Linked DNA regions of Homo sapiens: regions 1, 2, 4, 5, 6 and 7 are each reported to be linked to region 3. The links are microRNA targets in miRTarBase. Many come from high-throughput screens and were not tested one by one. Region 3 holds a microRNA gene; each other region holds the end of a gene's coding sequence.
What was found. The annotated mature microRNA hsa-miR-6504-3p reads CAUUACAGCACAGCCAUUCU and lies in region 3 at 2,843-2,862, shown strand. An mRNA with a match to its seed (bases 2 to 7 or 8) in the 3' UTR can be bound and repressed. Matches are read on the target gene's strand: a 7mer-m8 pairs with bases 2 to 8, a 7mer-A1 pairs with bases 2 to 7 and ends in A, and an 8mer does both.

Region 1: miRTarBase lists STYX as a target of hsa-miR-6504-3p. Seed matches in the 3' UTR shown: 7mer-A1 at 2,777-2,783 and 7mer-m8 at 2,962-2,968.
Region 2: miRTarBase lists SFXN5 as a target of hsa-miR-6504-3p. Seed matches in the 3' UTR shown: 7mer-A1 at 797-803.
Region 4: the mRNA of FAM227A is a reported target of hsa-miR-6504-3p. Seed matches in the 3' UTR shown: 7mer-m8 at 1,175-1,181, 7mer-m8 at 1,491-1,497, 7mer-m8 at 1,624-1,630, 7mer-m8 at 3,111-3,117 and 7mer-m8 at 4,102-4,108.
Region 5: the mRNA of LSM3 is a reported target of hsa-miR-6504-3p. Seed matches in the 3' UTR shown: 7mer-m8 at 905-911.
Region 6: miRTarBase lists EXOC8 as a target of hsa-miR-6504-3p. Seed matches in the 3' UTR shown: 7mer-A1 at 1,822-1,828 and 7mer-A1 at 3,331-3,337.
Region 7: miRTarBase lists TNFAIP8L1 as a target of hsa-miR-6504-3p. Seed matches in the 3' UTR shown: 7mer-m8 at 3,186-3,192, 7mer-m8 at 2,735-2,741 and 7mer-A1 at 1,617-1,623.

What each region holds. Positions count from the first base shown.
Region 1 is chr14:52,770,250-52,774,380 of GRCh38, forward strand. STYX (serine/threonine/tyrosine interacting protein) reads left to right here. Exons shown (of 11, transcript NM_145251.4): 11 at 784-4,131. The coding sequence ends at 857. Among named protein-coding and RNA genes, the nearest start is that of GNPNAT1, 19 kb to the right of the region's middle.
Region 2 is chr2:72,941,278-72,945,277 of GRCh38, forward strand. It overlaps SFXN5 (sideroflexin 5), which reads right to left. Exons shown (of 14, transcript NM_144579.3): 14 at 759-3,822. The coding sequence ends at 3,745. Among named protein-coding and RNA genes, the nearest start is that of EMX1, 26 kb to the left of the region's middle. RefSeq lists an enhancer at 592-1,580.
Region 3 is chr16:81,608,545-81,612,675 of GRCh38, forward strand. It overlaps MIR6504 (microRNA 6504), which reads left to right and starts at 2,804; the gene lies at 2,804-2,864. All of the region lies in intron 2 of CMIP (c-Maf inducing protein), which reads left to right. RefSeq lists an enhancer at 18-247.
Region 4 is chr22:38,582,432-38,586,562 of GRCh38, reverse strand. It overlaps FAM227A (family with sequence similarity 227 member A), which reads left to right. Exons shown (of 17, transcript NM_001013647.2): 17 at 364-4,131. The coding sequence ends at 438. Among named protein-coding and RNA genes, the nearest start is that of DMC1, 14 kb to the right of the region's middle. RefSeq lists a silencer at 752-952 and an enhancer at 3,497-3,546.
Region 5 is chr3:14,197,695-14,201,825 of GRCh38, forward strand. LSM3 (LSM3 homolog, U6 small nuclear RNA and mRNA degradation associated) reads left to right here. Exons shown (of 4, transcript NM_014463.3): 4 at 342-3,428. The coding sequence ends at 422. Among named protein-coding and RNA genes, the nearest start is that of LSM3, 21 kb to the left of the region's middle.
Region 6 is chr1:231,332,360-231,336,476 of GRCh38, reverse strand. EXOC8 (exocyst complex component 8) reads left to right here. Exons shown (of 1, transcript NM_175876.5): 1 at 1-3,724. The coding sequence ends at 909. Among named protein-coding and RNA genes, the nearest start is that of EXOC8, 3.4 kb to the left of the region's middle.
Region 7 is chr19:4,652,107-4,656,237 of GRCh38, reverse strand. TNFAIP8L1 (TNF alpha induced protein 8 like 1) reads right to left here. Exons shown (of 2, transcript NM_152362.3): 2 at 670-4,131. The coding sequence ends at 3,808. Among named protein-coding and RNA genes, the nearest start is that of TNFAIP8L1, 15 kb to the right of the region's middle. RefSeq lists a silencer at 1,457-1,506.

The DNA of each region.
Region 1 (4,131 bases), not on the chromosome of region 3:
TTTTATAGTGAAACATTCTTCAATTAGAATATGCCCTCTGAATTAACATTATTATTACCATGATATAACAGTCCTGTAGGGCATAAGTTTAAGGTCATGCCATTGTTAGGCAAAAAACACAGCAGACCCTCTGCTGGTTTAACTGTTCCCTAAAGTTTTCCTCCATTGAGAGTCTAATTTCTTGATTATAACTTTTGGGGATACAGAGATAGCTTTGATTCTATGTGGGAGATTTCTGTACTAGCAGATGCTGGTATGAAGAATAGATAAAAGAAAATCTCTTTATATGCTACATGCCTTCCTTTCTCCCAACCTAGACTTCGATAGCTTGAGTGGAAAAATATTTTCAGCTGCTCTTCATAACAGCCTCTGTGAAAGCAAAAAGATTATCTACAAAAAATTATACAAATACAAGATTAATTTCCTAAATTTTATGCCCTAAGTCACATGTTTATGGTGCCTAAAAAACAATTAACTTGATAACTAAACATTTATGTATTATCTCTTGAAAAGGTCTATTTTCACACTATTTCAAAAATTATTTATTTTATATGCAATACCTAAGACATAATACTTGAGAAGGAAAATATATCCTGTCATGAAGATTAAAAAGTTATAATATTTAGGTAATTTATCACAAAGGAATTTACTAAATTTTGCTATATCAGTTGTGGAATTTTCATAGTGTATACATGATCACTTAATAACAAAATTTTACTTGCTGTAACCTTTTAACATGAATTTATTTTAGTGCCCTTTTAATCTTCATGCAATAACTTTTAGGCAGTTTGAAGAGAACACATGAAGAAGAGGATGATTTTGGAACCATGCAAGTGGCGACTGCACAGAATGGCTGACTTGAAGAGCAACATCATAGAGTGTGAATTTCTATTTGGGAAGGAGAAAATACAAGAGAAAATTATAATGTAAAATGGTAAAAACATAAGTAGTTTTTTTTTCAATTACATGTTGCTTCCAGACATACTTCTCTGCAACTTGTTGAGCAACATTTTAAGATGTTGGACTTCTGCAATAGATGACACTGATGGTTTTACTCCTTTTTTTAAAAACACATGCGCGCGCACACACACATGCTTTACAAGTTTTATTATAAACCAAGAATTTTGGACTTGCAAAGAGGTATTATTGCAATAATGCACTTTTCATACTTGAAATTTATTTGTATGATATAAAGTTATTACTTTAAACAAAATGCAAGTATGGGGGGATTGTTTATAAAGTTTGGGTAATTTATAACAAAATTTGCTAAGGTTTGCTAAAAATTCATTTTTCTGTTCTATATATTACATTTTTAACATAATTTTACAGTTCAATTTTATGATGGAGCCTCTTACAGAAACATTAACAAAATGCAGGAATCTGCCACATTTCTTTTTTAGTATAACTTAATAGCTTAATTACCATTTTATTTTTTATACTTCTTCCATTATTAATCTTTAAATCATGATCCTAATTAGCTGTCCTTACTTTAACTTGATCTAATTATTGCTTCCTTTCTTATTACTTTCCTAATTTTTCTATATTTTAAAAACTACAGTTTCCATGATAAAAGGAAAACGTTTTGATTTATAGTACCAAGTGCTTAAACACAAGGATAGTGTTAGATTTTCGAGTGACTTTCCTTTTTGCATTTTTTGGCAGTAAAAGCCAAACGTTGTATTTGTTCTTTTCAGAGTTGTCCAGCCCTTTTTTCCTTTGTCCAAAATGATTCTAAATAGAATCTAATAAACCAATGTAGCATTATTTTTTTCTAAATGAAGCCCCAAAAAAGAAAAGTGCCTTGCATCATTTAAAAAAAATAATTAAATCCTCATGGCCTCTAAATTAGTATGTAGAACACTGAAAAGTTCTTAACATTTTTGTGTAATTTCCTTTCTTTTTAAACCATAAATTAGTTTAAACTGAAAGTACGAGGCTGGAAGAAATATTAGTAAATTATTTGGAATATAGAATGTTTACTCTTTCTTTTTATGTTGTCTTAATGATTCTGTGAGATTGTTCCGGCTCAAACAGAAGCTTTTCTTTGGGGAAGGTGATTTGTGGGAGACTAGTGTATTTTAAATTAGCATTTTAATCCATTCTTGACATTCAGTTAGTCCAGATCTGCCCCATAATTTGCTTTAGTAAAGTCACTTTATGGATTTTTGGCTATGTTTTAGTTTGTGTGTATAAAAGTTCTAAGAAAACATTTTTGCTATTTTAAGTATGTAAGGGAAGAGAGGAGTGTTTTTAACTTTTTATAGTTGATGACTTTAGGGTAGCACAAACAAAACTCCTTTGTATCTAACTTTTCTCAATCCTCTCTTGAGGTGCTTTACTAATGGGAATGATTTCTGTATGTTCCCTTGGTACCAAGAGGTACTATGCAAAGTAACCTATTACACCAAGTTACTTGCTTTGCTTTCCTCTCTATGATGTGATAATACAGTAAAAGCTTTCTTACCCAGCATAGTGGGAGAGTGGAGATTAATTAAAATTGTTAATTAAGAGTTAATTCCTATTGACCCAGGTGATATTTCTCTTCTGATTTCCCTCCCCTTCCCTTCTCTTATCTTACCACTGTGAAAACAGCATATTGTTAATCTCGTTGTCGTCCAGTATTCTGCTTTGTGATTAGGTCTTTTGATGTACAGTGGTCTAGTGGAGTCAAGATTCGCATTGGGTTTTCTAAAATTCCAGTTGATAAAAGTTCCAGATAACACAGCTTTCCTGTATATAGATCACTATTGGGCAGGTCAGCAAAGATCTCTTACAGTGTAATAATAATCTATGATGCTTCATTTAGCAGAAACTCTGCTTAAAAGAATCTTCATAATAGTAAGTTTAGGTTTTAAAAACTTGTTTCATAAATATACATATATCCTCTCTAGTAGTCTGGCCAAAAGAACAGATTTTGTTATTGATAATTTGTAGCTGGTAATTTTCCACATTTTCTATCCACTGTAATTTTTATGTTGTCACTGAAGTGCCTGCCCAGTACTGTATATTACAGTCTCTCACAAACACTGGGAAAAGGGACTGTCATCATCTTGAGTACTCTGTGTGTATATATATATATATAGATAGATAGATTTTTTTTTTTTTTTGAGACAGAGTCTCTAATGTCACCCAGGCTGGAGTACAGTGGCACAATCTTGGCTCACTGCAACCTCCACCTCCTGGGTTCAAGTGATTTTCCTGCCTCAGCCTCCCAAGTAGCTGGGGTTAGAGGCACATGCCACCATGCCTGGCTAATTTTTGTAGTTTTAGTAGAGATGGGGTTTCACCATGTTGGCCAGGCTGGTCTCAAACTCCTGACCTCAAGTGATCCACCCACCTCGGCCTCCCAAAGTGCTGGGATTACAGGCGTGAGCCACTGCGCCTGGCTGAGTACAATATTAATGTAGACAAACCATGAAGTTTATTATTTCATATAAGAACATTACAGGTTTGTTTTTTCTTGCATGTCTGTCCACCTAATGTTTAAGTAGTTCTGGTAGCTCTTCCTATTCTTTATTCTATTTGATTCCATTTCTGTGATTCTTTTATTACCACTGATGTTTTGTGATAGTTAACTATGATAAATTTAACTGATCATGATTTATCTTCTAGAGTATTTAAATAATGTATGAGTGACCACCCAATTCCAACATTAAAAGTGTAATCTGGGCCCATAATTTATAGTGAAATTGTATCAAAACATAGGGAAACTGTATTACTGTCCATTTTGAAAATATGAAACTTGAGTATTGAAAATATTCAAACATGGAATGGCAGTATTCTAATTTCAGTTAGTTGGTTCATGTTAATTTCTTACCTGTTAGATGTTTAAACTGCAGTGACCTTTACTTGTATCTACTCTGTGGTGGAAATGTTAAACCATGATAGCTTTTGCTACCAACTCAACCACTTAACTTTTAGAGCAGTTTTGGGGAGAGTTTATGCTTCATCTGAGTTTAGAAGTAATGTCAGAAAATGTTAAGCATGTCTGTATTAAGAAAATATAAGGTTTCTAATTGTCTTATTAATATGGTAATTCAAGTGAATTAGAAATATTTAACTGCAATCTTGAATTATAAAGTTGAGATATATATATATATGTATCAAGATCTCAACTTGATGTAAAGTAAA
Region 2 (4,000 bases), not on the chromosome of region 3:
GCTGTTCGTGGCATTTTATAGATAAGGTCACCAAGGCTCAGTTAGAGTAGGTGTCAATAAATGTCTGACCCAATTGATGGGTGAATAGAGGAAGCATCTGGCTAGAAGCCCCAGTCATGCTGGGCCAAGCTGCGGCTGGAACTGGGGTCTATCTGACCCCAGCCAGGATGGCTTTCCACCTCCCTGCCCGCTTCTCTGCAGGGCTGGACTTGGGAACTCTGGGGGCTGCCTGGAAGAGGAGGAACCATTGCTATCAGGAGATGCCCAAGTCCTAGCCCCAAGGGATAGTGGAGGAGTTAAGAAGAGGCAGAGATCTCAGGGCTGGTACCATGCACACTGCAGCCATGAAGCACCTTTCCACTTGGCTCAAACCTTCCCTCCCTAGGAGGCCTCTCCTGGCCCCAGGTGGTCCAGAAATGACCCCCTCCGGCCTCCCAGCCTCATGGATATAAACAGTATGGGAATCTACCAAAAGTCTTACTCACGTTCCTTGAGGGCGGGCTCCTTAGTGAGCGCTCAATAACAGCTCTGTAAGGGGAGTCCTGCAGAATTTCACTGCCCTGTGTCCTCACATGGTCTCCATCCTTTCCTCTCCCCTTCCCTCTGGGCCTCCCAGCTGGCCCGATCCAGCCTGGAACCTAGGTCTGCACCTTCCCTGGAGGTATTCCCACAAAATCCTCAGGCAGTCCTTCCCTTTTCCCACTGGGTTCCATACGCCACTCCCCTTCCCACCCACAATTCACAAAACCACACCCTGATGCTTTAAATCCCGTATTTATTGCCCAAAGCTCATTAGTATTACACAAATCACATAGATTGAGAAATTTTCTGAGGTTAAAAAGACGCTGCAAAGGCCCCTGGGAGTGGCTGAGGCTTGCGTGCGGGGGCCTCACTCTCACTGGGCCAGGCTTGAAGACCACCCTGGGTCTGTCCACCAGCCTTTTTCCTCCTCTAGGCTCCTGCCCTTTTCCCAGGCCAGAGGCCAGAACACCAAAGAAGTCGGCTCATAACCAGGTGAAAGGGGTCCGTCGGCCAGCTCGACTCCACGGCCAGCTTGACATCTTGGTCCCTGCACCCTCACACTGCTGTCTGGGAATGGAAGAAGGGCATCCCCAAGCCTGAGGGCATGTTTGAAGTGACCAGAGGAGGGCCAGGCAGGGACACCAGGGGTGCAGCACCATCGCAGGCGTGGCTTGTGTTCTCGCACAGCTGGCCAGCCCCGCCCTGACTGTGTCCAGGCTTAGCCTCCACCCCAGGCATGAACCAATCTGCCCCTCAGGCCTCCCTTCCTCTGGCCTCAGCAGAGTGGGGCATGGGTGCTGGGTGAAGGTTTCCCCTCACAGGTCTTTCCAAAGCCAGACCAGGGCCTAGTGGCATAGCCCACTGTCCCTCTGTCACCCTCACCCTAGGCTATCTGGATCCTTTGCCACTGCACCGCCACAGGAGCAGACCCCTTGGCTCACCTGAAGCTGCATTTGGGAGCATGACGGAAATCATCCGGGAGACAAAGCAAATGAGTTATGAGATGCTGAGGCCACAGGCTGGGCCAGGGCACCAGGCCTCTGGCAGGGGGAGGGCGGGAAGGGGTGGGTAGGCAGTTTTGGTCCCAAGATAAAGTGCACAAGAATAAGACCTTATGATAGGTAGGAGCAGGGTGAGCTTGAAGTGAGCTTTTCAAAAGACGACCCAGACATGCCAGCACCTAGTTCAGGCCTAGAGACCAGCACAGCGCAGCAGTCACTGGCATATTCACATTATGGTGGGATTGGCTCAAAAAGGCCTGCCCCTCCAACACCATGGCACCCCCACACTCCCGCTGTTTTGTCCTCCAGGCTTGTCTAACCCTTCTCCCCCTCCTCACGGGCAGCAGGTGGGCTGCTCCTCAGGAGAGTGGCAGGCCCCTCAGGGCAATGTGCTGCAGAGCCAGCTGGTGGGCACCAGCGGCTGGCAGAGAGGCAACGGCCATGCCCATGGAAGGCCCACCTCAGCACACTTCCCCTACCCTAAGATGCCACCCTGCAGCGGCCTCTTCCTACACATGAATGTTCACCTCTGGCCTAAGTCTCCCCTGAGGTGGAGACCCCGGGGGAGGGAGGCCTGGGGCTGCAGGTGGAGGCTTCCATTCTAGGTGGGGTCAGGAGGGGGCTGCACTGAGGCTGGTGCTTCCCCCTGGTTTGGGCCTTTCAGATGAGGGGTCACCCTGCTCACACCCACCCCAGGCTCTGCTTCCCTTTGTACAGCTTGCTCTTCCTTCCTGGTCTGCAAATGGGAGGGAGATGGGAGCCAGCAGCAAGGGGCCTCTGAGGCTGCCAGAGTGAGAGGCGACACATGGGTATGGCCCCACCATCAGGCCCAGGCATCTATGTTACCTCCTCCTCCAGAACTGTAAAGTGTTTGGCAAAGGTCAACTGCTCCCGGGATATGGAGTCACATACACAAGGCAAGGCCTTCTGCTGAGGCCAACTGCAGGTCCAAAGGGGCCTGCCCCCTTCCCAGTCCAGAGTCCACACTGGGGACATGCCCAGGATGACCAGCATCTGAGCAGGACAAGCAAAGACGAGGTCTTGCTGGAGGAGCCAGTGGGAACCCCTTGATCCAGTCTTCTGGTTTCAGACAGGGAGTGGAGGCTGAGAGAAGGGAATGAATTTGTCTGACATCTCACTGCCATTTAGTGACAGAGCCAGGGCCCACTGCTCCTAGGTTGATGCTGCTTCTCTGATAGGTGTCTAAGGAGCTGGCCTAGGCATTCTCAGGCATGAGACCTTCCTGCTTAGAAAGGGATGGGATGGGGCAGGCAGCCTTGGTGGCTGGAGAAGCTCCGCAGAAGGCAGCCAGCCCAGTCTAGCCCCACTCTCAGCCCCAGAACCCAGCATCCAGCCTGGGGCCTGGAAGGAGGATCTTCCCGAAGAGGCCAAGTGCAGGTCCATGGTTCCTGCCAAGCACCATTCCTTCTCGGGGTTTCCTGCCTGGAGCTGGGGTCACTTCAGGGGCCCTGAATCAGTTAGAGCTCCACGAAGGGGGACCCTAGCTCCAGGGTCACTGGACTTCACTCAGAGGGACTGGTTCTGCAGCTCTGGAATGGATGTGGGCTGGCTACATTCAGAGCCAGCTGCCCACAGAATCTTGCAGAGGCCTCCAGTGCTCCCTGATTCCCTGGGCCACTGCCTGAGGACCCTAGTCATGGCTAGTTCATCCTGTGGGGTGCAGACCACCTTCTCTCCCCTCCCCATGCCAGCCCAGGGAGCCATCTGGGCTGGCCATTGTAATATCCTAAATTTACCAGCCTGGCCACCAAACCAGCCCAACTCCAGGCCTAATCTGGCTCGCCTCCACCTGTCCTCCTGCCACTTCTGGTCAGCTGAAACTAAGGCTCAGATTTGATTCTGATAAAAAATAAAAATAAAAAAGGAACCAAAGTATAAAAGGATTCTACTTCTACCCCATGGGCACTCTACAATTTTTCAGCTTCACACATAATTGTGCTGAGTGGAGTTTTGACAACCCCACATAAGGCCCAGAAATGCACTTGATTATTTTTTTGTACGAAATGTGTTAGAACTCCTCTTGCCTATGTTAAAATGTGAATGGGTCAGTCTCCCTCCACTGTAGGTTGAGCACTCTCCCAGGGGGCCCAGGACTGCTGGGGTTGGCGTGCTGCTCCCTGCAGGTGCAGCCGTGAGTCTACGGCCCTGCCCCTCAGCTCCCCGGCTGCACAGTGCTCCGTCCCCAGGCCGCTGACCACACTCACAACCCCTTGTTGTACACCACTGTCCGGCTGCTCGTGGCCTGGGCTATCTCCGGCTCTAATTGGGATGTTTCAATCTGTGGAGAGAGAACAGAGAGGAAAAGTGGGGGAGTGGGAAGGGGCAAATAGTGGGGCTGGGAGCTGCAGTGAGGACCACCCTGGGCCCCAGAGCTCTGCCCCCTGCACCCCCGTGTCCACCCCAGCCAGGGCTCACATGCCCTACCTAGTGACACATCTTCCTTCTCCACCGCCCTC
Region 3 (4,131 bases):
GTGTTCCCATTCAGCCCCCAGGAATTCACTCCCCCGGATTACCCGCCCACCCTTGACCTCAGGCAAGGCCCAGGTCTCGGATTGGTAGCCCCACCAGGACCACACAGAGGCGGTGAGGTGCGTCCACCAAGAATGGAGAAGTGACTGACAAAAACCACGACCACGGTCACACATACATAAGACATGTTACATCATGTCAGGGGAGCCAGCCAATTTTCAGAAGGAACCCCGAGTCTGAAACCCCTCATCTAGAGAAAATTTACTCTCTTATCAGTGGGAAGAAGACCTGCCTTGCTTTTTCTTTTGGGATCATTTTATTCCTAACTTGTTTTTCCAGGGAAACCTTCTCTTAGCCCAAAGAGATGCTTTCTAAAAACCTATTTTAGATCTAGCAGCCACTGGATTGTGTAACAGCATTGGGCTGAGAGTCACCCAGTCTGGGCTCCAAGGAATGCTGAGCTCAGTAGCGGAGCGTAACAACTTAGCATTGTTAGAAATGTCCTGTTTCTTACTGTCATCTCTCAGAGGACTCTGGAAACCACGCCTGCCCCAGTCTGCTTTCTTCTTAGTGAATCTCTCACACTCTGCCCTCTACGCTTTTCTTTTAACCCTGTCCCCACACCCCCACACTGTCCCTCCCCCCCTCCCCACCACAGCCAGCAAAGCCTTCCTCTTCTTTCTTTCTCTCCTCTCATCTTTATGATAGAGGTCAGTGTCACCCTCCTGCCAGACACTTCTGCCAGCTCCTCTGCCTCTTCACTCGCTCCTTCTTGCCCATCCGATGGCTGCAGCACAGAGTCCATGAAGGGGGTGGTCAGTGCCAGCCCCCCTCGGCGGGGGAGATGGGGCGGGCAATCACAGGGTTCAGTGGCCAACGGAGAGGTAGGGTAGCCAGAGATTGTCCTACCCCAATGACTTTGCTGTAGTCACAGAGCTTTGAGGCAGCCTCTCCCCTGTGCTCGGGGAGGCCCCATGCGTGAAGAGCCCCTCAGCCCCTGGGGAGACAGAGCCATAAACAAATGATTACGGAAATAATGGCTAAATTAGAGGCAACCGTGGAGGACTGGGAGCCCAGAGAAGGAGGAACTTATTTGGCCTGGGGGGCCAAAGCAGGCTCCCCAGACAGGGGGCATTTGAACTGGGTGTAGAGGGATGAGTAGAAGTGTGCCAGAATGGTGGGGTGGGGGCACACTCCCCGGGCAGAGGGGATGTGTGTGCAAAGCCTGAATATGGGGGACCTGGGTACTTGCTGCAGCTGGAGGAGATGGAGAGATGGAGTTTGGGGCTGTGGATATGTCTAGATCTGTTGGGCGATGGCCAGATCACCCAGGCCTTGCCAGCCAAGTGAAGAAGCCTCAGACCCTCTTCCAAAGGCAATAGGCAGCCACTGAAAGCTCTGAAGGGGTAGAGGGACACTAGAGGAATCAGTGTGGTGGCAGGGCAGAGGGGCCTAGATCTGTGCATGACAGAGAGGCAGGAGGGAGCCCCTTGAAACATTCCAGTTGGAGGAGAGGAGGCCCTGAGCCTCCACTTTCCTGCTCCACCAGCAAAGGGGCCTCATTCCTTCTGGGGCTGGAGGGGCAGCCCTGGCCTCCAAAGGAGGCCAGAGCATCACTCGCCACAGGGATGGAGGGGCAGTGAGGCTGAAAAGCAGAGAAGCAGTGCCTGGAATGTCCCTTTAACCCGGCTGTGGCCGCGGGCCCAGCTGTGATGACTCGCCTGGCCGCCGTGTCTGGCAGGGCTTCAGGACAGAGCTGCCGCCGTGGTGCTGAGGAGCCGAGCGGGCGGGGAGCCTCTAGCTGCTCCAGCATCCCACTTGCTCACTGCCCCCTGATCCCGTGGACAGCGCAGTCAGAGGCAGGAGCAGGAGAGGAGGAAGCAGAGGAAAAGGAGGAGGAGGAGGCGGCTTGCAACTCCTCAGATCCAGAGCCGGACTCCGAGCTAATGAGGGAGCAGCAGACACGGCCTCCCAACCCTTCCCCCAAGGGGAACCCAGGTGGGTGCAGCCCCTGCCCCTGGCGGCTGTGGTTCTCTCCCTGGCTGCCATTTCCGTCAGGGGAGGTAGACCTGGATCGGCTTCTCCCTTGCTTCCCTCTCATCCTCACCCCCACACTCTGCCCACCGTGATGCATGGGTGGTATGTAGCTGGCTCATTCTATAAACAGGGCTAGCGAGTCTGTGTGGTTCTAGGGAGGCTGGGGCGGGGTGCACTTGGCCCCTGGTGTGGTACTCAGGGCTTTCTTCAGTCCTGGTTGTATTCACGTGCCTTTTGTGACGGGTGGCAGGACCCTCTGCTTTGAGAGGCTGTACTTTGTCTTGATTCACATACAACATACTGTATTAGATCCCAGAGCCGTGGTGTCACAGAGAACAACCCCTTTGGCCCTGGGGACAGATCTTCCCTGCTCCAGGGTGGGAGAGGGGACCAAGAAACAGCCAGGTGCCCATCTGAACGGCATTACCTTAGTGCTCCTAGTCAGCAGATGAGTGAAAGTGCCTTAAATGGTGCCGCCCGGCACAGCCACCAGCAGCCACGCATGGCAGCCCACAGATGGATTTAATTTACTCATCAAATTAATAACACAGTTCCTCAGTCCCGTTAGCTACACCTCCAGTGGCCAGGGGCCACACATGGCCAAAGGCTGCTGTGTTGGACAGCGCACATAAAGAACATTTCCATTGACACACGAAGTTCTGTGGAGCAGTGCTGACCTCGAGGCCTTTTCATTTTGACCTCATACTGCAGGCACCTGAGCCCCTCCTGGGGCGAATCACGTCAGATCACAGGGGGCTCTTCGATCTTGCAGTCTGGCTGTGCTGTAATGCAGTCTGCACCCTGCTGCATTACAGCACAGCCATTCTCTCTACAGACAAGGGGAATGGCGGGGCCCAAAGAGGGCTAGTGCCCCTTCCCTACCCCAGCCTGCCTGATCTCTCTCCATCTCTGTCTCTTTCAGGTTCTTTGCATCCATGTGTGTCTGTTTTCCTCTCTCTCATGCCTTTTCTCCATCTCTCTCCCCTCCTTCCCCTTCTGTCCCCTCCTGCCTCTCCTCTTTCTCTCTCTTTAGTCCTTGCTGTGGCTCACTCTGGGCTTCTCTTGCAGGTCCTTCCTCCAGGCCTCTCACCACCTCTGAGCCTGTCCCCCAGTCCTCTCTGTGTGTCTCTCCCCTCTTCTCTTCCTCCTCCTCCGCTCTCTCTGTCTTCTAAGGAGCTCTTTGTAAAACTCTTACTTTGTTAGAATTTGAATCAATGCCTCTTGCAGACCTCGGGGAGCTGACCTGATCCTTCAAGGAAGGCAGAGAGGACATTCAGGCCCATGCCCCTCATCCCCAGCTCAGAGACAGAGCAATCTACCAGCAGGTTGAGTTGGCAGACAGAGGCGCCCAGCCTTCCAGCGTGGGTCCAGTTGGTGTGTTTTGGATGCTTTGTGTTTTCAGCGTGAGCTCCCTCACTGCCATGTTATTAGAATCCCTCGTTGCAGAAAGGGCCTGTTTATCCCATTTCCTCCATTGATGCCCTTTCTGCTAGCATTTCATTGTGGGGAGGCCAAGCATGTAAGTACATAGACAGTGTCATGAAAACGTCCTGAAGGTGCTGTCACTGGCCCCTGGGATGGGGTAGCAGGCATTAAAGAGCAGCGCGGCGCAGATCATCTTCTGGGGGATTCTGCCTAAAAATTGAGTGGCTGCCCATCAGCAAAAATTAGACAGAGCCGCTGCTCCACAAACAAGGCTTCAGGCAAGATAAGAGCAGGGAGACCCTCCTCCCAAGAGTGTCTGCTTCTTTCGGGGATGGGTTCCGGGACTCGGCTCTTCTCACCAATGTTCTGGAAAGTCCTGCAGGAGGCGGGGCAACTGTTTACCCCAAACATTGGCAGCAGGGCAGGGACGGGGTGGGTTCCTTTCTTACTGGAAGGTAGCAAGCAGGACTTTTCCGGTCTGGAAAGCACCAGAAAGGTCTCACTCTCTAGCTTCCAGTAAGAAAGGAAGCTCCTTTTCCCTAAGAAACTGGGCCGGGGAAGGGGAGCTTGGAAAAGGTCGCTCACAGCGCACCCTGGGCTGTTTTTCTCACCTCTCAAGACAATGCAACAATGAGAAAGAACTTGGCAAGTTTGGGAGAGGAAATTGGGCA
Region 4 (4,131 bases), not on the chromosome of region 3:
TGTGAAGCAGATAGACAGAGTTAGAAAACACAATCCAGGTTTTCAGCGTCACCAGAGGGATGTCACCTCCAATGGAGTAGTACCTGCCTGCTACCTAGAGGTTTTTGGGGCCCAGTTCAGATCCGACACAGCAGTGTTCCTGTCAGTACTGGTGAAAGATGAAGGATGGAGGCACTGGGGATGTGGAAGCCGTGGATGCCAGCTGTCCTGCTCGACCACTTTCTCTGGAGGCAGGAGCACGCCCTCAATATTCCATGCACACAAGGATCACCACTGGCCACGCCACTGCTCACGTGCAAAGTCTTTGAAGAAATTACATTTTTTAAATTAATTTTTGTTTTTGTTCGTTTGTTTCCCCCACAGGAGGGGAAAGGAGGAGAGGGAAAGAGAAGAGAAACAGAAGTTGAACATTTCTTTCCACTCACTTCCAAGCCCTGAGGAGCTCCACAACCTAGAACCAGGAAGCGCCTACAGAATCCGTGATATTTCTGCTACGAGGTGGAGTGGAACAAGAAAATAAGAAAATTGTGGCCAAAGACAGAAATAGGAATCATGATTTCTCCATAGGGGAAGGATTCCGTTGTAGTTTTTCCTAGGCTGAGTGAAAAGCAGGAGTAGAGAGTTGGTGCTTGGGTCACTACATTTATTCATAGATTTACTCTTTCAGTATTTTATTACGTGCATGCTGGTAAGTATGTTACAAATATGACCTCATACAAAGGTAAAACTTTCATACCAGCCGTATGAAGTAGGGATTATCCACTGCATTTTACGCAGCAGCAAGCCCAGGTTTAGAAAGGTTTCCGAAGTTCTCTGCTGTAGACACTGGGTAATTAACAGTAGATAAGACACAGTCCCTGTTCTCAAGGGAGTCACCATCTGGTAGAGGGAAGACAGATGTATCAACACATTAAATGCTGTAAGTATTGGACAGAGGAAAAAGAGAAAAGTGTTGTGAGGGAAAAGGAAAATGGGCCTAGAGGAGTGCAATTTTTTGTAACAAGCTTTGTGGAACTATTAATTTGATAATTTGATAGGCGCTTCTATTATGCTGCCTCTGAACCTTTGCCTCCTGCTCCTCTAACCACTGGGATTGCCAGCCTATTTCCAATATGCCCTCTTTCTGCCTGGCAAACATCTTGTCTTTTCTAAACTCAGCCCAGGGACATGACATCTGTAATGTGTTTCTGTGTGACTCCCAGGCTTCTGCCTTCTTAACCTCTCACCTTCCAGCTCATTTGAGTGAATCTTTGTCCAAGAATTGAGAGAAACTTTATAGGTAAAGCATGCACATGTTGTCTGATTTAATCTAAAATAGAAATAAGAAAACAAAAAATAATACTGCAACTAGGGACACATTTAGTCACTCCCAGTTCATGAGACAAGGAATAGTAAAGTTCATTCCTACCATAGCAAAAGTCAGGATTTAAATGTAAATTAATTTTTTTAATTAAAAAATTTTAAATTAGGCCAGGCGTGGTGGCTCACACCTGTAATCCCAGCACTTTGGGAGGCTGAAGTGGGCAGATCACGAGGTCAGGAGTTCGAGACCATCCTGGCCAACATGGTGAAACCCCATCTCTACTAAAAATACAAAAATTAGCTGGATGTTGTGGCGGGCACCTGTAATCCCAGCTACTCGGGAGGCTGAGGCAGAAGAATCGTTGGAACCCAGGTGGCGGAGGTTGCAGTGAGCCAAGACCATGCTATTGCACTCCAGCCTGGGCAACAAGAGCGAAACTCTGTCTCAAAAAAAAATTTTTTTTAATTAATTTTAACTAAATTAAATTTTTTAGAGGCAGACTCTCAGTCTGTTGTCCAGGCTGGAATGCAGTGGCGCAGTCATAGCTCACTGCAACCTCAAATTCCTGGGCTGAAGCAATCCTCCCACCTCAGCCTCCCAAGTAGCTAGGACTACAGGTATGCCACCATGTCTGGCTAATTTTTAAAGAAATTTTTTTGTAGAGATGGGATCTCACTGTGTTGCCCAGGCTGGTCTCGAACTCCTGGCTTCAAGTAATCCTCCTGCCTTGTCCTTCCAAAGCACTGGGATTCTAAGTGTGAGCCACCACACCTGGCCTGGAGTATCTAATATTGTATAACATAATAATAGTAATCATAGGTGATGTCATTTATTGAGTACTTAGTATGTGCTGAGTGCTCTGCTAAGTCTGGTTTAGACATTATCTCAGTTAACCTTCCTGGTGTCCCCCAAGATGGATATTGTTACCTCCATTTTCTCCTAGGAAGAAACGGACTTGGGGGGGATGATTAGGTATTTGCTAGATGTCTATTCTGTACCATCCCTGCACTAGGCCCTGTGAATACAGAGATAAATAAAGACACAGTCCCTGACCTTATGGGGCTCACAATCTGGAAAAAAGAGAAGGATGTGTAAACCAATAAATGCATTAATGCTCCGATAGAAAGCTGCGTGGAATCTGAGAAAAACCAAGGCAGATGAAGCCAGTGTGCCAGCAGCCCTTTGGGACAGAAGATATTTCACTGAGGGGCACAGGCACAGGGGTTGGTTTGCCAAAGGACCAGCAGCTGGGCTGAAGGGCATAGGTTTTATCATTTGAGCTTCAAGGCACAAGGCAGTGACCTGGTCTGTGCTAGAACAGTTCACCTGTCACAGCCAAGAGGAAAGAAATGGTGCAGATGGCTGTTTGCCCAAACCAAGCAGCAGATAAGCAGATCTTGGGAAATGTAGCTCATCCCTCAGACACACATCTTTACTTGAATCCTGAGTAGAACTCTAGGTGACCCCCTTGGAGGCTATTACTCATGTAAAAGGGGATGAAGGAAAGGTAAGAGAGAAGGAGCTTAGGCTTTGGCATGAGAAAATTTGGGCCTTTGAATCCCTGCCCTGCTTCACCATATGGATGTGTGACTCAGCATAGTAGCTGTGCATCTTGACCTTTCTGAACGTGCTTTCTTGACTGCAGAAAGGGAATGCCTGCCTAGGAGGGTTGTTGTGAGGATTAGATGAGATAATTTGTGCAAAGTTCTTGGCACAGTACTTTTCACTTTGTAATTGCCACAAGCTGTTATTGTTGTTATTGCTGTTATAAAGTGTACTCTTCTTGGCCGGGTGCAGTGGCTCATGCCTGTAATCCCAGCACTTTGGGAGGCCAAGGCAGGTGGATCGCCTGAGGTCAGGAGTTTGAGACCAGCCTGGCCAACGTGGCGAAACTCCATCTCTACTAAAAATACAAAAAAATTAGCCGGGCACAATGGCAGGTGCCTGTAACCTCAGCTACTCAGGAGGCTGAGGCAGGAGAATCACTTGAACCCGGGAGGTGGAGGATGCAGTGAGCTGAGATTGCACCATTGCACTCCAGCCTGGGTAACAAGAGTGAAACTCCATCTCAAAAAAAAAAAAAAAAAAGTATAGTCTTCTGAAACCAGAACGTGTGAGCACCTGCCGAGTACAAGGCACCATGTGGGGCAGATAAGCAGAACACTCTCTCACCTTCCCTTTACTACCCCAGCCACTGTCAACTCTTCATTTGCAGTTTCTCTAGGAACCACACTTTCCTATTTCTGGATCTTTTGTCTGTTGCTGCTTCTGGACCTGAAAATGCCTTCTCCTCCCTCCTCTTTGTTAACTGCCAACATCACTAATTCCTGCTCTTCCTCCAGGACCCCGCTTAGACGTCCCTCATCTTGGGAGCCTTCCCTAATATACCAGGAGCAAGGTAGGCACAAGTGCTCCACTGCATTATGCTCCAACAGCATTCTGTGCCATCCCATTATGGCAGCAGTTACCATAGTAGATTGGAATTGCCTGTCTACCTATCCACCGCTACTATTAGCCCCCATACAGCAAGAAGGTCTCCTTATTTTCTAAGCCCAGGACAAACTGCATTTCTGTCTGTCAGGACCATTTGTTGCACAGTCCAAGATCATCCCTGCATGGACCCTTTCCAGAAATGACTGAGGACTCAGAGTTGTAGCCTCTCAGGATGTTAAATATGAAGAAACCTGTCTCTGCCCTTTGTAAACATTAGAAGGGAAAATTATGGGGAAGAATTATTTGCCCTTTATAAGGGAAGCGGGGTAGAGCATCAAAGGGAACTAACATTTAAAAAGCATTTGCTGTAATGTGGGATAAAGCAAATGAGTAAT
Region 5 (4,131 bases), not on the chromosome of region 3:
TTCTGGGTCAGTCTGGATATAGTCCTGTCATTTCTGTTTACTTGCCATTGGTTAAAGCAATCCGATGGCTACATCTGGTTGCAAGGAAGAATAAGAAACATAGTCCAGCTGTGTGCCCAGGAGGAGAAGAGTGAGTTTTAATGGGTAGCTCCAGTCTCTGCCACAATTGTCGAAAGGAAGCAGTTGATGGATTGGTTCTTGGTGCTACCAAGGGAAGTGATCAGGTTTTTTAATCCAATTTTTTTGTGTCATGATGAATCCATTTTTTAACATTTCTGTCACAAACAATAAGCAGTAATACACAGTTGTACAAATATGTTCTGTTTTTTTTTCTCTTCTAGTCAACGAAACGGAATATTCCAATGCTCTTTGTCCGGGGAGATGGCGTTGTCCTGGTTGCCCCTCCACTGAGAGTTGGCTGAAACAAAGAATTTGTCCTGTATGGAAAACGGGAGACTTTGTACAGTGGCCTCTCTAAAAGTACAAAACATTCATAAGAGAAACCTGCATACATTTTGATATTAAGAAATAATTCCGGGGATTCTTCCACTCCTGAAATGAGTTGATTTGCAGATAACTCACAACTTCTTAAGCTAAATGGTATTTTCATTTTTCTCAAGCTCTCCAATAAATATGACCACCAAGATGCAGAACTCTTTCAGGACTTCTTTTGCTCCATTATTCTCACAGATACTTACTGATTTTTCTTTTCTTTAAATTGGTGTTTCCTTGTAGATTTTTTTAAGTGCGGTCTTCTGTCTTGTGAATTATTTAAAGTAAGCATGTCTTACCTTCACTTAGCACACATTTGCAGTGCACCTACTGTGTTTGAGGCACCAGGTTTGAGTGCTGGGAACCAGAGTTTTATCAAAATGCTTTCTGGGCCAGACATGGTGGCTCATGCCTGTAATCCCAGCACTTTGGGAGGCCAAGGTGGGTGGATCACCTGAGGTCAGGCGTTTGAGACCAGCCTGGCCAACATGGTGAAACCCTTTCTCTACTGAAAATATAAAAATTAGCCAGGCGTGGTGGCGCATACTTGTAATCCCAGCTACTCAGGAGGCTGAGGCAGTAGACGCTTGAACCCAGGAGGCAGAGGTTGCAGTGAGCCAAGATCACACCATTGCACTTCAACCTGGTCAACAGAGCGAGACTCCGTGTCAAAAAAAAAAAAAAAAAAGTTTTCTGCCCTCAAGTCTTCTGGGGAGGCAGATGTTTAAACCAACAATTGCAGGCAGTAAGATTAGTGCTGATAGAATCATGCACATGCAGGATGCCATAGGAGCATGGGGAAGAGCACCCAAATATGGGAGAAAGGGGCAGAGGGACATTGTAAACATCAACCCTGCAGTAGAAGACAGAGCAAAGCATGATTTCTCTTTTCTCTGGCCTGATTTAATTCTAAGGTCAGACGTTCAGCTTGATCATAACCTGTTTATAATTATGACTCAGACCATTTTTCCACTCTTGGATCATTGGCCATTAATGATGAGGGGTCTCAAACAACATGTCTCAGTGACACAGTAAAGCAGAAATTGGCTGAAAGCAAAGCTGTTTTTATTTCTAGCTTCAGTCAGCACATAATGCTTAAAACCTAAAGAGGAAAGTAAAAGCGTGTTACAATCTCTCAAACTTTATCAAGACAGGGCTTAGAACCTGACATCCTCCGCTATGGTCATTCCATTTTGAAATGTAGAAAATCCAACTTGTGGATGGTTTGTCTGTAAATGAGCTGAATGTGTGTGCGTGTTCATTATCAAGCACGATATGCTCACAAATGCACAGTACTTTAAGCCTTGTGCAAGAAAGATGCTTTCAGTAAACATATTTAAAAGGTTTTATTTTCCTTACTAATGGTACATGCCCCTGCAAGTTCATGGAGAAGAGAAAAACAAGTGTGGGTGAGCTGATGGAGGCTTCATCTTAGGTGAGGAGGCAGGAGAGACACCCTCCCTTCACTTGTGCCATCCCCACGCTTTGTCCTTAAGCTGTAGTGGTCCCAGGAGATAACCTGTTTACAGCAGCCCATTCAGTATTGAAAAATGAACTCCCTCCTGCAGAATGTTAGAAGAAACAACCTCAAAGACCTCAGGCCGCCTGTGGTCATTAGTATGTGGCAGCAAGATTGAACCTGCCTGCCTCCTACCTGTGTGAGCCTGTGGTGTGGGTGTGGTACCAAGGCCCTGGCTCTGGGCAGTCTGTTGGCTCCTGGTGTTCACTAAGGCGTGGGGTGACAGGCCATCTGGCCTCGCTCTGCCAGTCTGCAGTTCTCCCCAGCACTGCATTCATTTTTAGTGGTTTCTGATAGTCACACTGAATTCCTGGACACTTTCTTCTCTTCATTCTTAGTTATCTTTCTCCTTTTTCTCCTGGAACTGATAGTTTACACTAAAACTTTTGGCTGTGAGGACTTGATTATACACATTTCTAAAACCCATGAACCTTAATATCTGACACTGTTACTCTCATATGCACACACAACTAAAACATACCAACCTACTTCATTTCCTAGCTGCTAAGATACAAGGGGAGGGACAATAAAAGGTTAACTGCAGAATAGCCACCTATGTGTCAGGAAATGGAGGGAGGGGAGGCAATGTGTGAGTCCTTTTGGAGCTGGGACTCAATCCACAACAGAGACAGCTCAAGCAGGGCCCTGCCATGGTCCACACTGAGGTTTCCTCTGCAGTGGTGCTGTCCACTGAGGGGTTATGGTGTGAGGGCCCCTGGGAGCCACGCCTTGGACTTCTGAGTCTGCAGAGCACTCGGCTCCAGCCAGCTGGATGGCAGGTGGTCAGTGGAGCTGGTGACTGGTGGTTTCTGCAATGAGGTGTCAGATTAGCCTAAGGGAAGCCTCTTCAGCAAGTATCATGCCTGGATCCCGGTCTTGGTTGTTTTATGAGAGGCCGATATGAATTGCCATTGCCTCCCACAAAGAAAAATGGACAAAATATGGGACCACATCTTTGAGATGAAATGTGCCCAAAATGAAAAGTAACTTGAGTATCCCAAGTTAAACTTAATCATTAGCTGCAAATGGACGATTTTCAAATTTCAAATAGTGATTTTTGAAGATTTGCCCAAACTAGAGTACTATCCCTCTTCACACTAAGAGGCAGAAAGTGGTTTCACACACCCTTTTATTTAATCAGCTAAAGTGGGTGCGGTGACACACACCTGTAAACTCAACCACTAAGGAGACTGAGGCGGGAGGATTACTTGAGCCCAGGAGTTCGAGATCAGCCTGAGCAACATAACAAGACCCTGTCTCAAATAATACTTAGCTATTACCCATATTGCTTTTAGCCTGCTGCCAGGAGGGGAGAAATGTTATTGTTTGAACAGATGTCAGATGTGAGTAATGCTCAGCTGTGTTCAATGTAGAAAATTAATAAAAGTTCCAGGAGTCATCCTGGCTAGATCAAGAAGCACAGTTGATGTTTCTCTGTCACTCAGCTCTGCTGAACTACATGGATTTCATTCGTGGGCAAGCTCTTCCCTGTAGCAGATGCAGACTTCCAGCCTACCTGCCCTCCAGCTAAAGTGGTCTCATCCTCCTTGCTTGGTCCCTGTGCCCATCTGTGGGCTGGTTTTTACGGCCATGAGAATGTGGGGCTCTGATTGGCCAGGCCTCAGTCACACGCCCATTTCTGGAACTAAGAGCAAGGTTATCCCCACCTGAGCTGTATGGTCTAAGTGCAGAAGGAGGGGTCGTTCTCTGAAGGAAACCAGAGGAAAGGGGAAATGGAGCTGGACACAATGCCTATTACACAGGAAAACTTTTAGTCTGCCCCAACTTATAGAAAAATCCCTTTGGTACTTTCCTATTAGTAACAAATTTCTTGGAACACACCTCAGACTGACACTATGACTTTAAGCTATTGCTCTGGAATCCAGGAGGTTCTGGAGCAACCTGTGTGGGGATCAGTATGGGTGGAGCTCAGATTTGTTGGCTGACTGGGCCTGATGGTAGCCCGAGTCCTCTTGAGGGGTCTAGGTAGGAGATCTGCAACACAAGAGGGCTGTTAAGCTGGGGGTAGGTATCAGGGGGTCCTCAGAGCTTCTGGGGAGGGCAGGGTAGTTGAACAGAGTGGACTGAAGAACACTAAGCCCCATGAGACAAATTGCTGC
Region 6 (4,117 bases), not on the chromosome of region 3:
TGCACGAAGGCCTGTGAGCTATTTTTGAGAAACAGGGCAGCCGCTGTTCATACTGCAATTCGTCAGCTTCGCATCGAAGGTGCCACTTTACTCTATATTCATAAGCTGTGCCATGTCTTCTTTACCAGCCTTCTCGAGACTGCAAGAGAATTTGAGATCGATTTTGCAGGCACTGACAGCGGCTGCTACTCTGCCTTTGTGGTCTGGGCAAGATCAGCCATGGGCATGTTCGTGGATGCTTTTAGCAAGCAGGTGTTTGATAGTAAGGAGAGCCTCTCTACAGCAGCTGAGTGTGTAAAAGTGGCTAAGGAGCATTGCCAGCAACTGGGTGATATCGGACTGGATCTCACCTTCATCATCCATGCCCTTCTGGTGAAAGACATCCAAGGGGCCTTGCACAGTTACAAAGAAATCATCATTGAAGCCACTAAACATCGCAACTCTGAAGAGATGTGGAGGAGGATGAACTTGATGACGCCAGAAGCCCTGGGTAAGCTCAAAGAAGAGATGAAAAGTTGTGGGGTAAGTAACTTTGAGCAGTACACAGGGGATGACTGCTGGGTGAACCTAAGTTACACAGTGGTTGCTTTCACCAAACAGACCATGGGCTTCTTGGAAGAGGCCCTGAAGCTGTATTTCCCAGAGCTGCACATGGTACTTTTGGAGAGCCTGGTGGAAATCATTTTGGTTGCTGTTCAGCATGTGGATTATAGTCTTCGATGTGAGCAGGATCCAGAGAAGAAAGCTTTTATCAGACAGAATGCATCCTTTTTATATGAAACAGTCCTCCCTGTGGTGGAGAAAAGGTTTGAAGAAGGTGTGGGGAAACCTGCCAAGCAACTCCAAGATCTGAGGAATGCATCTAGACTTATTCGTGTGAATCCTGAAAGTACAACATCAGTGGTCTAATGCTTGGGTCTGTTTATATGTGTATATATGCAGAGAGAGAGCTTATATATTATTTATATTTATATTAAGTTGTATTAGCATACTCTATAGTTTCAAACACAACTTGAAAATTAAAAGTGCCCTCTTAAAAATACAAAAATCAAAAAGAGGAAAATAAGTTAAATTAAGCCCAAGTAACAAAAATACTGGAATTATTAAAACGTATAGTATGCTAGCTATCCTTTTAAATTATGCTAATTCTCTTCTTCTGAAATTATGGTCACACTATATACTATAGCATTTCGGTTTTATCCTTTGATAAAACTTTTCTTTTTTCTTTTTTTTTTTTGAGACAGGGTCTCACCCCGTCGCACAGGCTGGAGTGCAGTGGCAAAGTCTCGACTCACTGCAGCCTTGACCTCCCGGGCCCAGGTAGTCCTCCCACCTCAGCCTCCCATGTAGCAGGAACCACAGGCAGGCACCACCATACCCAGCTAATTTTTGTATTTTTTGTAGAGATGGGGTTTCGCCATGTTGCCCAGGCTAGTCTTTTCTTTCTTCTTTTTTTTTTTCCCCACAGTATATATTATACAGCAGTCATAATATCTATAAATACATAGAGTTTATGTTGTGAAGTTTCCCAGTTCACTGAAATGTTAGGTTTCCTAAAGGGTACAGTGCCGTATAAAACAACCTGCCTCATATATTTCTCCTCAAAACGTTGGACTATTTGGGAAAAGGAAAAGAGTTGGGAAAATTGGTTTTAAGGTAAGTTTTAGTCAAAAGAATTCTTTCTTGAAACTAGCTGGTTTGTGGATTCAGATACTCTGATCCTTACAGAATCCAAGAGGAAGCTTTCATAAAAACAATTCAGCAAATATTTCCAATATAATTTGAATGGCTAATTTTCAGTTGCTAATTAATTAGCAGCTTTGTAATACTTGATTTGGGAGCATTTACTTGGAAATCCTAAGGACTATAATAAAAGTTTTCAACATATTTCTAAATTGTGTGAGTTTCCAGCTGTAGCTTTTGTCTTTGTCACATTTTAAAAAATAATAAGCAAGACACATTGGGGACACTGGCAGCAGTTGCCAGGTTTTAGCTGCCACCGCTTCAGTATGAGATATAGCTGTCCCATCTTCCCCCATTCAGGGTAGGAGATATAGTGACCCAGACTTCATGCAAATGGAAAAAAAGTTTTAACTGAAATATTTATTTAGATTTCAGGGTCTAGATGGATGGGAAAGTAGAAAAACATATGCAAATCTCAGTGTTCTCACTATGACCACTCTGAGCAGAGATTTGGTTTTGTTTCCTTTTGTAACAAAGTGAAAACAGGTGAGACAATGTGCCCAAAACAAAGGGAAGAAGAGAACCTTCTGTGACTCCTAAAATGTTCCATGCTGCATTTTTGTTTCATTTTTTATTTTTCCTTGCTTTGTTTTTAAACATGAATATAATGCTTACTTCAAATTGTTTAGTAAAACAAAATAACTAAAGAAATGTGAGCTTCCCAAGGTTTCTAAACTATCGCTGTTGTATATTCTATAGCGTTCCTTATTCTTTGAGGGAAACTGTGCTTGCTGTGATCCATTTTGTCTCTAGCTTCTAGTTGTGATTCTTGTCCATAAGCACCAAATTTGATGCCCATGATTTCAAAAGGTCATTTCTTTTATCTGAATGAAAATGGTGGTACTAAGACTGTGAAAATTATGTGAAACCTAAAGTAGTTGCCAAAGTGGCTCAGGGTTGTAAAATTCATTGACTTAATTATTCATGTGCCAGATCAACCCCTTTATTTTCTCTTTAGCTGTGCATATTTAAAATATTGGAAAGTATCAGATTTACAGATTTTCTTTGACTAATTTTTTTCACATAACTTTAGGATTTTCGAAAGTTGTAACCATAACTGGATATCTTAGCTGAGCAAAGGCGGTTATAATTTGTCTTTTTAAGATCACTGGAAATTGATAAAATTTTGTGATAATTATGATTATTCTGTGCCATTTACAGTTTCTAATACTATACTGTATGAAATATGTATAAATATATGATGCTGAGTCTGTGGAATGATACTTCTGAAATCAAAATTCCTCATAAGGCATGAAGTTGTAAAAACTTGAATGTGTATAGTTAGATATTTAAATGGTTGCTTCTTCATAGAATTGTCTGCTTTTTAAAACTGGAAGTACAGGATTTTCTTCAGGTAAAATCTGTGTGTTCCAATTACAGTTGTAGCTGAAGGAAGTATGCTTTGGTGAGTCAATTAGTATGGGAACTTGACTAAAGACCCCCAGTGTTGTAACGTACCTTTGTACCCAGACAAAACAATTATGTTACATTCCTCAAAGTGGCATGGGCTTTCTTCTCTAATTCTTCTGTTTTATTAGACCCAAGACAAGTTCTAAAAATTGAATGCAATGAGAGATTGTCCAGAAATGTAATATATACTAAAATATACCACTTAAGCATTGATTGCCTTTTCTTGTTTGCTTCAAGAATATAAAACTTGTTACTTGAGCTTGGAATCATGGGCTTGATTGAATTAATTACTCTTGGGGAAAAAAGACACCTTGTGGCATTAAGTCTTGCTTTGGTTAAAGCCTTATTTCACATAATTGCTAAAAACTCATTTTTGTTTAATATACTACCTATAGTTTAATTATCGGCACTTGTATTTTGTAACTTGATATCTTACCTAGGATTGGGAATTTGGGACATGACATGTACTATAAAAGTCAGTCTATGTACATACTGCTTATTGATGTGCTGTGATATGAGGGAATCTGAAATGTTTCATAAAAATAAAGCTTAAAAATTGTCTTACACTGGATAAAAGTGATATTAAGATATTATATCTATTGCTCTTCTTTAGTTGGTATTCAATATTTTTATATTCTTGTTACTGAAATATTCTTTGAAGACCCTAGTTTTTTGTTTTATTTATGTGGGGAGGATACTTAGGAAGCTGTTTGCTAAATTAAGTAAGTGTTCTGCTTACCGTCAGAATTGTGAATAAATCAGATCTCAATTTTTTAAAATTCCCTCGAATGGAAAATTTCAGAGGTACAAAATGTGAATTTATTATAAAAAAGTAGATTTTATACCATCTGCACATCTCTAAATAAAGAAAATAAAATGTAGGCCACAAGACCTAGGAACTAAATGACAAGGCTTGGCCTTTTTTTTTTTTTTTGAGACAGAGTCTTCCCATATCGCCCAAGCT
Region 7 (4,131 bases), not on the chromosome of region 3:
CTGATGCACCAGCATACATCAGGGCATCTCGGGACACACAGGAGCTTCCCCTCTGACCTTACGTGTGCATATGTGTGCTTTTTTTTTTTTTTTTTGGACAGGATCTTGCTCCATCACCCAGGCTGGAGTGCAGTGGTGCGATCTCGGCTCACCGCAGCCTCAACCTCCTGGGTCCAAGCCATCCTTCCAGATAGCTGGGACCACATGTGCATGCCACCCTGACTGGCTATAATTTTTTATTTTTTTATTCTGTTTCTGAGACCAAGTCTCACTCTGTTGCCCAGGCTGGAATGCAGTGGCACGATCTCATCTCACTGCAACCTCCGCCTCCCAGGTTCAAGTGATTCTCCTGCCTCAGCCTCCCAAGTAGCTGGGATTACAGGCACCCGCCGCCATGCCCAGCTAATTTTTGTACTTTTTAGTACAGATGGGGTCTCACCATCTTGGCCAGGCTGGTCTTGAACTCCTGACCTCAGGTGATCTGCCTGCCTCAGCCTCCCAAAGTGCTGGGATGACAGGCGTGAGCCACTGCACTTGGCCTTATATATATATATTTTTAGAGATAGGGTCTCGCTATGTTGCCCAGGGTGGTCTTGAACTCCTTGGCTCAAGTGATCCTCCTGCCTCGGCCTCCCAAAGCACTAGGTTTAACTGACATGAGCCACTGCGCCCAGGCTGGTGTGTGCTTTTATTTAAATTGTTCCGCAGTCCTATTTGGTTTGTTTCCTTTAATTAAATCTCAAATTTACAAGAGTCCAGACTGTCTGGACAGCCCAACAGGGACACAGAGAGTTTTACACACTGATGTCTCAACAGCACAGGGTTCCATCGGGACTTCGTGAGAAAATCAGGATCCATGTACGTTCTTGAAGAGCTGTCTCTCGGCCTAAGATAAGTGGAGAAGGTTGCCTTGGAAGCGTGGGGTAGAGGTAGGAACAGCTGGCTCTCTGGCCAAGGCCTTTGGCTTTTTCGCGGAAGCAAAAACCGAACCACGGGAAGGCTGCTCCGAGTCTGGGGTCAGAATTTCCTATCAGTGAGTGCAGCAGGCCAGGGAGAGGCGAAAGGGAGTGGAGAGGACTGTGGTGAAAGGGAGAGGGGCGGCCCCTGCACAGCTTCACCAGGCGTCAGTGCAGGCTCAGACGGCCGGACTGGCGAGTTTTCAAGAGAAACTCCAAATCCAGACAGGTGTGTGTGATCTCTTGGTTTTAAATGCAGACAAATTCCAAATGTCTCAAATACTGAATGGAGCCAGCTAGACCTACCTTCTCACCAAGTAAGGCCCACAGGCCCCTGCCGCAACCTCTACCCTCCACAGACAAGGTTCTGCAAAACAGTCATGGGACCTTGTTTCACCTCCCCCACAGGCACCCAAAATAACCTTCCTGACCTGCAGCAGCATTTTGCAATCTTTGAGAACCCCTGCCCCCTGCTGACAAACAAAAATGGCAAATAGACTCCCCCACACCACGCCTCCACGCCCTGAGCTGAGAATCGCCCGCATCTCGTGGGTGGTACCAGAGCCAAGACGACAGCCAAGCTTTGCTTTCTCAGCTCTGTCTTATAAAAGCAACATGGTTGGCTGGTTGGTTGCTGATTCTCCAAATATGAAATCACGATATTACAATGTGCACACTTTGTGAGGCCGAGGTAGGTAGGTCGCTTGAGCCCAGGAGTTCGAGACCATCCTGGGCAACATGGTGAGACCTTCTGTCTACAAAAAATACAAAGATTAGCCGGGTGTGCTCGTGCACACCTGTAGTCCCAGCTACCCGGGGCTGAGGTGGGAGGATCACTTGAGCCTGGAAGGAAGGGGCTGCAATGAGCCGAGATTTCACCACTGCACTCCAGCCTGGGTGACACAGCGAGACTTTGTCTCAAAACAATAAATAAATAAAATGTGCACACATCTCAGGTGGGTCCCCCCTCACCCCTGGGAGGTGGGCACGCTCCGTCCCCTCCCATGTGGCAGTCCCTGGATTGGAGCAGTTTCCCCTCCCGACCCAGGGCAGAGGTCTCCAGCTTCACGGAGGCATCCTGGCTGAACGTGCCAGCATTCACTGGAGCCTTCTTGAGTGGGGGCTTCCAGTACCACATCCTGTGGACTGAGGGGCTTCACGCACATTTATTCTCATTCAGTTCTCTGGGCCGCAAGTCTGAGATGAAGGTGTGGCCAGGGCTAGGTCCCTCCAAGGCTGAAGGGGATCTGCCCTGGGCCTCTCCCAGCTCCTGGTGGTGGCCGGCATCATTGGCCTTCCTTGCATGCATGTCTGTGTCCAAATACTTTTTTTTTTCTTTCTAAGACAGAGTCCCACTCTCACCCAAGCTGGAGTGCAGTGGCATGATCATCGGTCACTGCAGCCTCTTAACTCCTGGGCTCAAGTGATCTTCCCTCGTCATCTCTCAAGTAGCTGGGATTATACGTGTGCACCACCACAGTCACTTTTTTTTTTTTTTTTTTTTTTTTTTTTGAGACGAGTCTCGCTCTGTCACCAGGCTGAAGTGCAGTGGTGCAATCTCGGCTCACTGCAACCTCCGCCTCCCTGCAACCTGCGCCTCCCAGGTTCAAGCGATTCTCCTGCCTCAGCCTCCCAAGTAGCTGGGACTACAGGCACGCAACACCATGCCCGGCTAATTTTTGTATTTTTAGTAGAGACGGGGTTTCACCATGTTGGCCAGGATGGTCTCGATCTCTTGACCTTGTGATCTGCCCGCCTCAGCCTCCCAAAGTGCTGGGATTACAGGTGTGAGCCACCACGCCCGGCCCACCACGATAATTTTTTTTTTGTAGAGACGAGGGTCTCACCATGTTGCCCAGACTGGTCTTGAACTTCTGAGTTCAAGCAATCTTCCTGCCTCGGCCTCCCAAAGTGCTGGAATTAGAGTAGTGAGCCACTGCACGTGGCCTCAATCCCCCACTCCCCCGCTTCTTTTTTTGAGACAGAGTCTTGCTCTGTCACCCAGGCTGGAGTGCAGTGGCACAATCTCGGCTCACTGCAACCTCCTCCTCCTGGTTCAAGTGATTATCCTGCCTCAGCCTCCCGAGTAGCTGGGACTACAGGCATGTGCCACCATGCCCAGCTAATTTTTTGTATTTTCAGTAGAGATGGGGTTTCACCGTGTTAGCCAGGATGGTCTCGATCTCCTGACCTCGTGATCCGCCCGCCTCAGCCTCTCAAAGTGCTGGGATTACAGGCGTGAGCCACCGCGCCCTGCCCCAGGCCCCCTTTTTTTAAGGACCCCAGTCCTTGAATTGGGGCCCACCCTACTCCAAGATGAGATCATCTGAACTAATTCCATCTGTAATGATCCTATTTCCAAATCAGATCATCTTCTGAGGTCCTGGGGGTTAGGACGTGAGTTTATGGAAGGGGGGGTGCCGCGACTTGCCCCCTAACACTTCCCTTCCCCCAGTTCACCGTGTGAACCCGTAGTCCTTGTGCGAGGGATGAAAATCCCAGGCGACATGATCCAAGTGGGAGGCAGCAGCTTTTGGCTTTTACATCAAGCGACCCAGGGGTCGGCGTGGCCCAGAAAGTACAAACGGGTGAAAGGTGGTCCCCAGAGTAGGGCCCCAAATTCCTCTCCCCATTGGGCGGGGGCCAGGAGGAGAGGTGACATTGGTGTTTGAAACAGCTGCTACAGATGCCTCAGCATCCTCTCAAAGGAGACAGGTCACCCATCTGTCTAGGGGAGTTTGGCCGGAGTCCGATTGGGAGAAAAGAGGTGGAAAAAAACCCACAAACCCCACCCGCGCCCAGCAGGAGAGCCCCAAAAGGCGCGAGGGGCGCGGTTGGGCGGCGCCGGGGTTCAGAGGCTGCCCTCGTCCAGCATCCGGCCCAGGCCCTCGCAGATCCTGCGCAGGTGGGAGCGGTAGGGCTCGGCGGGGCCGTAGAGCGCAGCCAGGAAGTCGCAGTCGGCTAGGTGGCCGAACACGTGGTTGATGCGGCCGTGGGACTTGGCGGTCAGGTGGGGACCCACGGCCTGGTGCAGCAGGTCGCGGCACTCGAGCAGCCCGGCGGCCAGCACGCGCCGGTCGAAGGTGAAGTCCACCTGGTGGAAGCTGACGGCCGTCATGGCCAGGCAGCGCGCCCGGTGGCGGAAGCGCCGCAGCAGCGCCAGCTCCTCACCGCC